3 linked regions of the Homo sapiens genome follow. The protein of the gene in region 2 purifies or fractionates together with the protein of the main gene of each other region. This does not show direct contact. Each region holds a gene or a part of one and is shown on either strand. Other genes may lie near its edges.

Region 1 (3,656 bases), on a different chromosome or scaffold from region 2:
TTCCCATGTTGGCCAGGGTGGTCTCAAACTCCTGGCCTCAAGTGATTCACCTGCCTTGGCCTCCCAAAGTGCTGGTGTTATAGGCATGAGCCACCGTGCCTGGCAGACATTTTGATAAGTATTTTTAAACTTCTCTGTAGGAAGCTTGTATTATGTAACCCTCCCACCACAAGTAATGAAAGAGATTGTCCTTCTCACTGCATCCTTGCCAGTATTAAGTTTATTTTTTGTATTTTTTACTTTTTTAATACATAAAACACACCACCTCATTGTTATTTTAATTTGCATTTCTGTGATTAATAGTAATAACATTTATTAAACGTGTGCATTGGTCTTTTATTTTTTCCTTTTGAATTATGCATTCAGATATTTGGACAATTCTATTGGGGTGCTATTGTTTACTCACTGATTTGCAAGAGTTCCTCAGGGCTATCATGAACTGTCATGTCATGTTTGGTGTCAATATTGTTTTCCATGATTCTGTTCTGTTTAAAATGCATGCATTGCTGCATATGAGAGTTTAAAATATATTCAAATCTTTATTTTGCTTTGTGATTCTTCCCATTGATTTTATATTTAAAAAGTACTTCCCCTAAAATTAGTTAAATATTTTATTCTAGCTTTGTTTTCCACCTTGCATATAAACTTATCAATTTATGTGGAATTTCATTTGGAGGGTCATGTAAACAGAGGTTCTTAGTTGAATGCTTTCTATACACTTAGCCAATTTCCATGACGTTTTGTCAAATACTCCTCACTGTTTCATAATGCCTTCTTCGTCATATTTCTGGTTCTAAGAATGACCTAAATCTGTTTCCAGGCTCTTCTATTCCACTGAGCTATTAATCAATTCTTACACCAGTACTACATTGCTATAATGATTGTAGCCAATGATCAAATTTACTTTTGTTTCAACAATGGCGCCCATTACCACTACCACTTCCATCTACCTACCTTCACCCCCCAACCACCCACATCTACCACCCACCACCCCCATCCATACCACCTCATCCCACCACCTTCATGTATTCGTCTCCACCATCAAACTTCCCCCCACCTTTACCACCCCTAGAACTCCACTCTCCACACCACCTGTATGTACCACCACCTCCCATCTTACCACCACCACTCACCTCCCCCACCACCACTACTATTCTTTTGAAAAGTTTTCTTTTATTTTTATATGGTGATTCTTCCAGATGGATGTTAGAATCATTTTGTAAGGTTCTCCCAAATCCCAATGTAATAAAACTATATAATTGATCTGGGAAAAATAACCGTTTCATAATATTCATCTTTCTACCAAAGCATAAGGTATGTCTTTCTTTGTTTGCTCCTCAGTTTATTGGTTTGAGTAAAATTGTATAGCTTTCCACAAAGACTTTTATATATTTCTTATTATTCACGAGTATTTTATGTATGTTTCCTGTTTTTCCCACTCAATTTATATATTAGTGAATTCATGAATAGAATCATTTTCCATTCTACTTTTTAGTTAGTAAAACACTGGCATTTTGGGTGGCCATCAATTTTTGAACATGTATTTTATAACCAAAAACATTACTGAAATTTTGTACTAGTTCCTTTAGGCTTTAATTGATCCCATTGTGTATCCATCACTTTTAAACAAAATCAAGGCACACTGTCTAATTTTTGGTTACTTACATTAAAAACTTTACTTAAACATAGGCATTAAATGCTATTTTACTGTTTATTTTTAAAAATCACCCTTTTATGAGACTAATATAAAAATCTGAAATTGAAGCCACTTTAGAAATCTAAAACATAACATGTGTTCCTCTGTTGAACTACATTCATTTCCCTTGGGCACTCAGTCTTACTATTCAAAACTACAAAAAGGGCTCTGAATGAGAGACATTAAGTCACTTCTCACTTGGATTAAACAGGACAAATTTAGACAATTAAACGAAATAAAACAATTCAGGATTTTGACAGAAACACACCAGGAACTTGTCGCCTTATAAAGAGCAATTTCTCTCCTAATTTACCTCCAGAGATAATGTCCAGGATGATTTTTAAAATAAAACAGTGCCCACCTAGATATGGTGAGAAAGCAATTGCATGCTCTTCTATATATGTGCAGATACCTTTTTCCCCAGATAAGCACACATTTCCTATTTCAACAGATCAGAATAATAATACCAACAAATTATTAATTCACAAAATATTTGTTGTGCTCCTAGTAAGTGTGGGGTTCTGTGTTATTGGGAAAGATTAGAGGGTTATAGTGATGATTATGGACAGGAATTGAAGAGACACTGGCATATAACAGAAGCTCAACAAATAATTAAATGTATTATTTATTTATTATTATACATAATGATTATTATTTATTGTTTACCATTAATTTCCAGAAGACTGAAAGTCTAGCTCACCATTGTCTTCCAAGGGTGTAGCATGGCAAATATACACATGCAATAAATATTTGCAGAATATTTATTGACTGATTGATGTATTTTTACAAAAACCTCAGTTGCCAAAAAAATATTTTGACTCAATTCTTAACTTCTAGCCTAAATCAGTTCTTAAAAGATGCATTTGTTAAAGCCAAGAATACTCTCCTTTTGAAGTCAGAATAAGGTTCTAAATTGCTCTTTCTATACTAGAAAAGAAAAACCTTCTAAAAATCAGATCTTGAAGTTGGCACAGGAAAATGCTATGAGGCAGAGTATTCGTTCCTTCACTCATTCACCAAAAGTTCATTGAGCACCTTCTGCATATAAGACATAAAATAAATGGCCATTATAGAGCTTACAGACATAGCCAAACAAACAGGCATTTGCAAACTGGAATAAGTGCTGTGGAATAAAAGTGAAAGGATGATGAGAGAGTTGGGTCGGTGGGGAAGAGAGATCAAGGAAGCCCAAGGGATGAGTATGACCCAGACTGGTAAAATATAGAGGGAAGATGGTTGGGGATGTTCCAGAAACAGACAGAGGGTCAGTGTGACAGCATCAAGAGGAAGAGATGCACAAGATGAGGCTGGCCAAGTATCAGAGGCTCTAGGAGTCTCTGGAATCTGTCCCAGGTGTGTGGGTGGTATTTTATGTAGGGAACTGACATTATCCTCTCTGCTCTGGATGAAGGATTAGAAGAGCCAGGCAAGGAACCAGGGGTCTTGTTAGGAAGTTATTCTAGTGGTCCAGGTAAGAGATTATCATCTCTTGCAGTTTGATAGTGGTGGTGGTGGGGATAGAAATAATTTATCAAGATGTATTTAGAGATCTATAGAGAAAATAGCATTTATAAGACTGCATGATGGTTTTAAATGTGGAGGGTCAAGGGAAAGGAGGTGTCAAAGGTGATTCTTGGGTTTCTGGTTAAAGCAACTCGATGGATAGTGGTGCCATTTACCAGGTTAAGAAGGACTAGAAAGTTGTTAGCTTGCCTTTGTTGCTATTATTGTTTTTGTTATTTAATGCATTTTGGTTTTTTTGCATTTGTTTGGAAGGTTAGCAAGAAGGATGGAAGGCAACATCAACAAATCAACTGGGGGCACAGTATGTTTGAGATACTCTAGAAGATCCAGGTCCTGGGTTGTCTTGGCTCCCAGGTAAGTGACATGCATAAATGAGGTACTTTTGAACCCTGCTCTTCCCTACCATGGTTGTGTATATAAAGCCTCAAATAGGTTA
Region 2 (3,656 bases):
CAAAAAATTAGCCGGGCATGGTGGCATGCGCCTGTAATCCCAGCTACTTGGGAGGCTGAGGCAGGAGAATGCTTGAACCTGGGAGGCGGAGGTTGCAGTGAGCCGAGATCACACCACTGCACTCCAGCCTGGGCGACAGAGCGAGACTCCATCTCAAAAATATATATATATATATATATATATATAAATTTTTAAAGTCATAAAACTTTAAAATAATCTAATATAGCAGCAAAATAAATAAATGGAGCAAAAATTGTTAGGAACACAAGATTAGCTCTATTAGAAGACAACAAAATGGGAAAATCTGTCTCTTTCAGAAAACAACAGAATAAGAAGCCCCAAACTAAAGCTACAGAATTGCACGGCACCATTAAATAAACTTACTTAAATTCTTAAAAATAAATAAAATTTAATATTTTAATTTAAAACAGAGATCCCACATTCTTTAAAATGTCTATGAAGCTTTGACAAAACCAATCATTTATTAGGCCACAAAGAAAATTCCAACTTCCAAAAAGTCCTTCTTCCTGGATGACTACCATAAGGCCAAAACTTAGCAATCAAAACGTAAAACAACCACACACATACCCCCACCTCTAACCACTGAGAAGCTGAGCACCAATAACTAGATTTGGAGGTTAAAGTAAAAACTGAGAGATTAGGAAGCTATCAAACATTATTTGAAAAATAAAAACAGTACTGGTTCTTAGAACAAATAAAATTGTAAAACCTCTAGGAAGTCTGATCAAAGAGAAAATAAACATACGACATTAGGAATGAGGAAGTGGATATAATCACAAGTGATAAAGAGATTTTTAAAAATAAGAGATGATTGCTCTTTGCCAATTAAATTTGAAAATCTAGGTGAAATGAATGATTTCTGAGGAGAATACAAATTCCTAAATTTGATTCAAGAAGTTGTAGAAAACCTTTCTATACCAATAACCATAGAAAGAATTAAATGGGCAATCCATGCTTTATCCCCAAAAGATAAAGACCCCAATAGTTTCATTAACAAGGTCTAATAAAAATTATAAGGGCATTCTCAATTCATGTTATTTAAAGTATTCCAGGGCATTAAAAACATAGCAATACATTTTTTTCCAATATATTTTCCAAGAAAACAAATCCCTGATACCAAAACAAAATTAAGATAACATAAGAGGCTGGGTGCAGTGGCTCACACCTGTAATCCAAGCACTTTGGGAGGCCGAGGCAGGTGAATCACTTGAAAACAGGAGTTCGAGACTAGCCTGGCCAAAATGGTGAAACCCCGTCTCTACTAAAAACACAAAAATCAGCCTGGTGTGGTGGCGGGAGTAGTCCCAGCTACTCAGGAAGCTGAGGTAGGAGAATCACTTGAACCCAGGAGGCAGAGGCTGCAGTGAGCCGAGATCCTGCCACTGCACTCCAGCCTGGGCGACAGAGCGGGACTGTCTCCAAAAACTAAAAAATAAAAAAAAAAGCCATGAGAAGAGAATTACAAAGCAATATAAATTATAAACATAGATATAAAATTCCTAAACCAAATACTAGCTTATCAACTTTAAAATGTATTAGAATAATATTATCAACCATGATCATTAGGTTTTTACTTTGGGAATTTTTTTTTTTTTTTTTTTTGAGACGGAGTCTTGTTCTGTCACCCAGGCTGGAGTGCAGTGGTGCAATCTCCGCTCACTGCAACCTCCGACTCCTGAGTTCAAGTGATTCTCCTGCCCCAGCTTCCCGAGTAGCTGGGATTACAGGAATGTGCCAACCACACCCGGCTAATTTTTGTATTTTTAGTAGAGATGGGGTTTCCCCACATTGGTCAGGCTGGTCTCGAACTCCTGACCTCATGATCTGCCTGCCTCAGCCTCCCAAAAAAGTGCTGGGATTATAGGTGTGAACCACTGTGCCTGGCCTACTTTGGGAATTAACCATTGCTTTTACATAAGAAAATCTTGGCCAGGAGCAGTGGCTCATCCCTGTAATCCTAGCACTTTGGGAGGCTGAGGTAGGAGGATTGCTTGAGGCCAAGGGTTTGAGACCAGCATGGGCAACAGAGTGAGACCTGTGTCTACAAAAAAAAAAAATTTTAATAAAAAATAAATTAAAAAAAAGAATTCACTGGAAGAACATCCAAGAACAAAAAAAAAAACGAAAAATCTCTTAAGATTCACGAAAGATGAAACTATGTGAACATCTGAATAGTAAAAGTAAATTAGAATATAGTTCAGACACCAAAAGCAAATACAAATTGTACTTAGTGTTAAAACACTATAAATATTCCATTTTTAATTTTTATCTATTTATTTATTTATTTAGAGACAGGGTCTTGCTCTGTCACCCAGGCTGTAGTGGCATGATCATGGTTCACCACAGCTTCGACCTCCCAGGCTCAAGCAAACTCCCATCTCAGCCTCCCAAGTAGCTGGGACTACAGGCGTGTGGCACCATGCCCAGCTAATTTTTAAATTTTTTTTGTAGAGACAGGGTCTCACTGTGTTGCCCAGGCTGTCTTGAACTCCTAGGCTCAAGTGATCCTCCTGCCTCAGCCCCGCAAAGCACTGGGATTACAGGAATGAGCCAAAGTGCTCAGCCTTATTTTTTATTAAAAAACGAAAAAGAGATAAGAAAAAAAAGTTCCCTTTAAAGATCAGAATAAGACAGGGATACATGTGAATACTGCTGTTGTTGCCTGGATATCCTAAACAATTTTAAATCACATAAAAAAAACTATACGCATAATTAGGAAGAAACTCTACTGGTTTGCAGATCATCTAACTGTGTGTATAGGAAATCCAAGAGAATCAAATGAAACACAACTAGAGGCCAGGTGCAGTGGCTCACGCCTGTAATCCCAGTACTTTGGGAGGCTGAGGCAGGTGGATCATTTGAGGTCAGGAATTCGAGACCAACCTGGCCAACATGGCAAAACCCTGTCTCTACTAAAACTACAAAAATTAGCCAGGTATGGTGGCAGGCGCCTGTAATACCAGCTACTCGGGAGGCTGAGGCACAAGAATTGCTTGAACCCGGGAGGCGGAGGTTGCAGTAAGCTGAGATTGTGCCACTGCACTCCAGCCTGAGCGACAGAGCAAGACTCCGTCTCGAAAGAAAGAAAGAAAAACAACTAGAACCAATAAGAAAAAAGATTACTTTGATGAATACATTAAAAAGCATATCTAGAGAAATTAAATTTCTAGACCTAGAGAAAACAATAAAATCATATTTAAGGACACAAAAGGTTTGAATGAAAATCAGTAGATGCACCACATTCTAAAATTTCCATTCTCTCCAAATTTATAAATTCAATGTAATCCAAATGTAAAAATGAGACATTTTTCCCGTTTTGGACTGGGCAAGCCAGTTTCTTTTTCTTTTCTCTCTTTTTTTCAGACACGGCGTCTTCCTATGTTTCCCAGACTAGAGTTCAGTGGGTATTCGCAGGCATGATCATTATACACTACAGCCCTGAACTCCTGGGCTCAAGTGACGCTCCTGCCTTGGCCTGCTGAGTAGCTGCAATTAACAAGCTAATTTCAAAGTAAACAGGCAAGCTCTTTTTAAGAAGGTAGAATAGTGAAAGTGTACTGGCTTATGAGGTATCTAAACATACCACTAAGTTTCTGGCAGACAGATCAAAGCAACAAAATACATACAGTAGTTGA
Region 3 (3,656 bases), on a different chromosome or scaffold from region 2:
TGTATTTTTAGTAGAGTTGGGGTTTCACCATGTTGGTCAGTATGGTCTCGATTTCTTGACCTCGTGATCCACCCGCCTCGGCCTTCCAAAGTGCTGGGATTACAGGCATGAGCCACCGTGCCTGGCCCTGTATACATATGTTTTTAGAGACAGGGATCTTACCTTGTTGCCCAAGCTGGAGGGCAGTGGCATGATCCTGGCTCACTGCCGCCTTGAACTCCTGGGTTCAAGTGATTCTCCCACCTGAGCCTCCTGAGCAGCTGGGACTACAGACGTGCACCACCATGCCCAGCTTTTTTTTTTCGTTTTTAAAACACGGGGTCCTGCTATTGTTTCCCAGGCTGGTCTCAAACTGCTGGTCTCAAACTCCTGAGCTCAAATGATCGTCTCACCTCTGCTTCCAAAAGTGCTGGGATTACAGACATGAGTCACTGTGCCCAGCTTAGTCTGTATTACAGACATGAGCCACCATGCCTGGTGTGTAATTGTTGGTGTGAATGATAGAGTTTGCTTACTTTTTTTTAATGTAGTAATCCAGTTTCATATTGCTAATCTGATTTCATAACTTTAGAATATCAGTGGCCATGAGAGGCTGAGTTTGGTTCTGAAATCAAGAGGAGCATAGATGTAGACCACAGTCTGTTTCCTTGTTATCTAAGAGGCAGGACAGCATAAGTGTTGCCAGTGTATTTTTGTTTTTCTTGTCTTTTCTGTCTCAGCCTCCTGAGTAGCTGGGACTACAGGCACACACCACCACACCCAGCTAAATTTTTGTATTTTTAGTAGAGACGAGGTTTCACCATGTTGGCCAGGATGGTCTCCAATCTCTTGACCTCGTGATCTGCCCACGTCCGCCTCCCAAAGTGCTGGGATTACAGGCATGAACCACCACACCCAGCCAATGGCCTGTATTTTTCTGAGTTTCATCAAGTTTGTGTTTGGTTAAATGCATATTCAGATGTGGATTCATTGCTACCTCTATATTTGAATTTTTTCTTTAATTACTTGAACATGGAATCACTTTATTTTGTGAGCTAAACAACAATAATTCCAATAACTTTTCTTATGAATAACTTTGTTTTTTTCCTCTAAATAAAGCCCCCAAAGATGGCCTCTGAATTAATCAGTTATGGGCCTTATGTATGTGAAGGATCCAAAATTATTGAAAAGTAATTGCTAGCTAGGTGCAGTGGTTTATGCTTGTAATCCCAGCACTTTGGGAGGCCGAGGCCCACGGATCACTTGAGCCTTTGAGTTTGAGACCACTGCATTCCAGCCTGGGCAACAGAGTGAAATTCTGTCTCAAAGAGAAAAAAGAAAAAGTAATTGCTTGATTGCATTTATCATAGCATTTAGTTAGAGGAGAGGAGAGGCAGATGCCAAATGTATGTTATTTTTTGTTGTTCATTTAAGTTTCTTGGTATGTCACTGGTGGCTTTTACTGTGCGTCCTTTTTAAGAGTGGGTTCATGGTGTGTTTAGTCAAATGCAATATAACTTACTCTGGAGTGCACACTGGGTTAGATTAGTATTTTGATTTACTCTGCTGCTATTTAATGAATACATAGAAAGATAAAGAAGAATGCTGTAGCAGTGAGGAGTATTCAGAACTTGGAGGTGTTAGAAAGGAGAACTTTGATATTTTATATTGAGTGCTGATCTCATTTAGAACTACCCACCTTACTGACACTTTGCTTCAAATATTGGTTTTGGGAAAATCCGATTATGATGAAAGTCTGTTTATACTTATTTTGCTGATTTTTTATTTAAATTGAATTGTATCCACTTAAAATATTTGAAAATAAATTGGCTAGCTCTTTGAACTTTGGAGAACAGCAGCCAGTATAATTCAAGGAGTAGCTTGAAGAGACTTTAATATCCCCTACCCGCTAGCTTCGTCAGCTTCCCACTAAGTCACCCTAAGTAAACATGCAATCTGGGTAGGAACTGGGAGCTTGATATCCAAATATTCTGTCTCTCCTTCCAGTCAAATTGCTATCCTTAAAAGTCCTTTCTTTCTTTTTTTTTTTTGAGGCAGGGTCTTGCTCTGTTGCCTAGGCTGGAATGCAGTGGCATGATCTCGGCTCACTGCAACCTCTGCCTCCCGGGTTCAAGCGATTCTTCCGCCTCAGCCTCCTGAGTAGCTGGGACTACAGGCATGCACGGCTAATTTTTGTATTCTTTGGTAGAAACGGGGTTTCACCATGTTGGCCAGGCTGGTCTTGAACTCCTGATCTCAAGTGATCCATCTGCCTTGGCCTCTGAGAGTGCTGAGATTACAGGCATGAGCCACAGCATCCAGCCCAAAAGTCCTTTCTATATAGAAATTCCAGAGACATTCTGGCGTCATGCTTTTAAATTATTTATTGTTTTATTATTTTTATTATTTTATTATTGCAATTAAGAGCAGTTCTCTTTTTTGCAAGTTATCTCTTATCTCCAAGTTAAATCTATGTGGATTAAACTGTGATTGTTTATTGAATTGCTGCTCTCCCTCTTCCGTAGCTGATGACTCTTTGAGTCAGTTCTACCCAATTAATCTAGGCCCTCAACTCTCAGGGTGATCTCTGCTTGTGGAGATTAAAATTGTTTCTAAGCTATGTGGAATAGAGCTTGGGTAAGGTTAAAGAAATTTTGGCAGGGTGGGTAGGAAGGGGCAAGATTATCTGTCTGATGGAATGGATAAGAAATATGACTGTGAGTTTATATTGATTAGATTGGAAGAAGCAATAGATGCTCTATTAAGATTATTTTCTATTACCTAATTCTATATTCAATGTATATCTACAATTCTGTTCTGTTATCTAATATCTATTAATAGAGACAGGAACACCTCCATCTTTTTTTGGAAATAGGTGGAAATAATCAAATAAGATTGGATATAATCTGTACTCTTGTAGTTAATTGTTATTTATAGATGCAACCTGATTCCATCCTCCACAAAAGTCACCCTAATGCAGATCAGCTTTTGGTAGGCCCTCTATATGTTTGAATCATAGCACCGGACACAACATAGACTGAGGTTTTGGTACTTTCTACATTAATATTCACTCAGAAAACTTTTGCCCATGCATTATATTTGTTATATCTGCATTAAATCATAAAAAAGTTATGATAGAAAAGTTTCAAGTGAGAAACTCCCCGTGATTTAACTATATTAGAGCACAGGATTATTTTATTTTTATTTATTTATTTATTTATTTTTTGAGACAGGGTCTTACTCCTGTCACCCAGGCTGGAGTGCAGTGGTGCGATCATGGCTCATTACAGCCTCAACTTCCCAGGCTCAGGTGATCTTCCCACCTCAGCCTCCTGAGTAGCTGGAGCTACAGGCTCCACACCTGGCTGATTTTTTATATTTTTAGAGACTGGGTTTTGCCATCTTGACCAGGCTGGTCTTGAACTCCTAGGCTCAAGAAATCTGCCTGCCTTGGCCTCCCAAAGTGCTGGGATTACAGGTGTGAGCCATGGCGCCCAGCCTATTTTAATTTTTAAAAATTTATATGGGGAGTCTCTCTATGTTGCTGAGGTTGGTGTTGAACCCCTGGGCTCAAGTGATCCTCCTGTCTCAGCCACCTAAATAGCTGGGACTACAGGTGTGTGCCATCACATCTAGCTAATAGAGTTGTTTTGAATTGGTTAAATTTAAGCCTGTAA

The links.
Region 1: the proteins of HIGD1A (region 2) and PAK5 purify together in Homo sapiens (co-immunoprecipitation; one large-scale study listed by IntAct). This does not show direct contact.
Region 3: the proteins of HIGD1A (region 2) and EPB41 purify together in Homo sapiens (co-immunoprecipitation; one large-scale study listed by IntAct). This does not show direct contact.

The regions. Positions count from the first base shown.
Region 1 is NC_000020.11:9,832,468-9,836,123, forward strand, and holds part of PAK5 (serine/threonine-protein kinase PAK 5), read right to left. Parts: intron 1-3,656.
Region 2 is NC_000003.12:42,787,436-42,791,091, forward strand, and holds part of HIGD1A (HIG1 domain family member 1A, mitochondrial), read right to left. Parts: intron 1-3,656. UniProt on the Homo sapiens protein: Proposed subunit of cytochrome c oxidase (COX, complex IV), which is the terminal component of the mitochondrial respiratory chain that catalyzes the reduction of oxygen to water. May play a role in the assembly of respiratory supercomplexes.
Region 3 is NC_000001.11:28,917,452-28,921,107, forward strand, and holds part of EPB41 (protein 4.1), read left to right. Parts: intron 1-3,656. UniProt on the Homo sapiens protein: Protein 4.1 is a major structural element of the erythrocyte membrane skeleton. It plays a key role in regulating membrane physical properties of mechanical stability and deformability by stabilizing spectrin-actin interaction. Recruits DLG1 to membranes.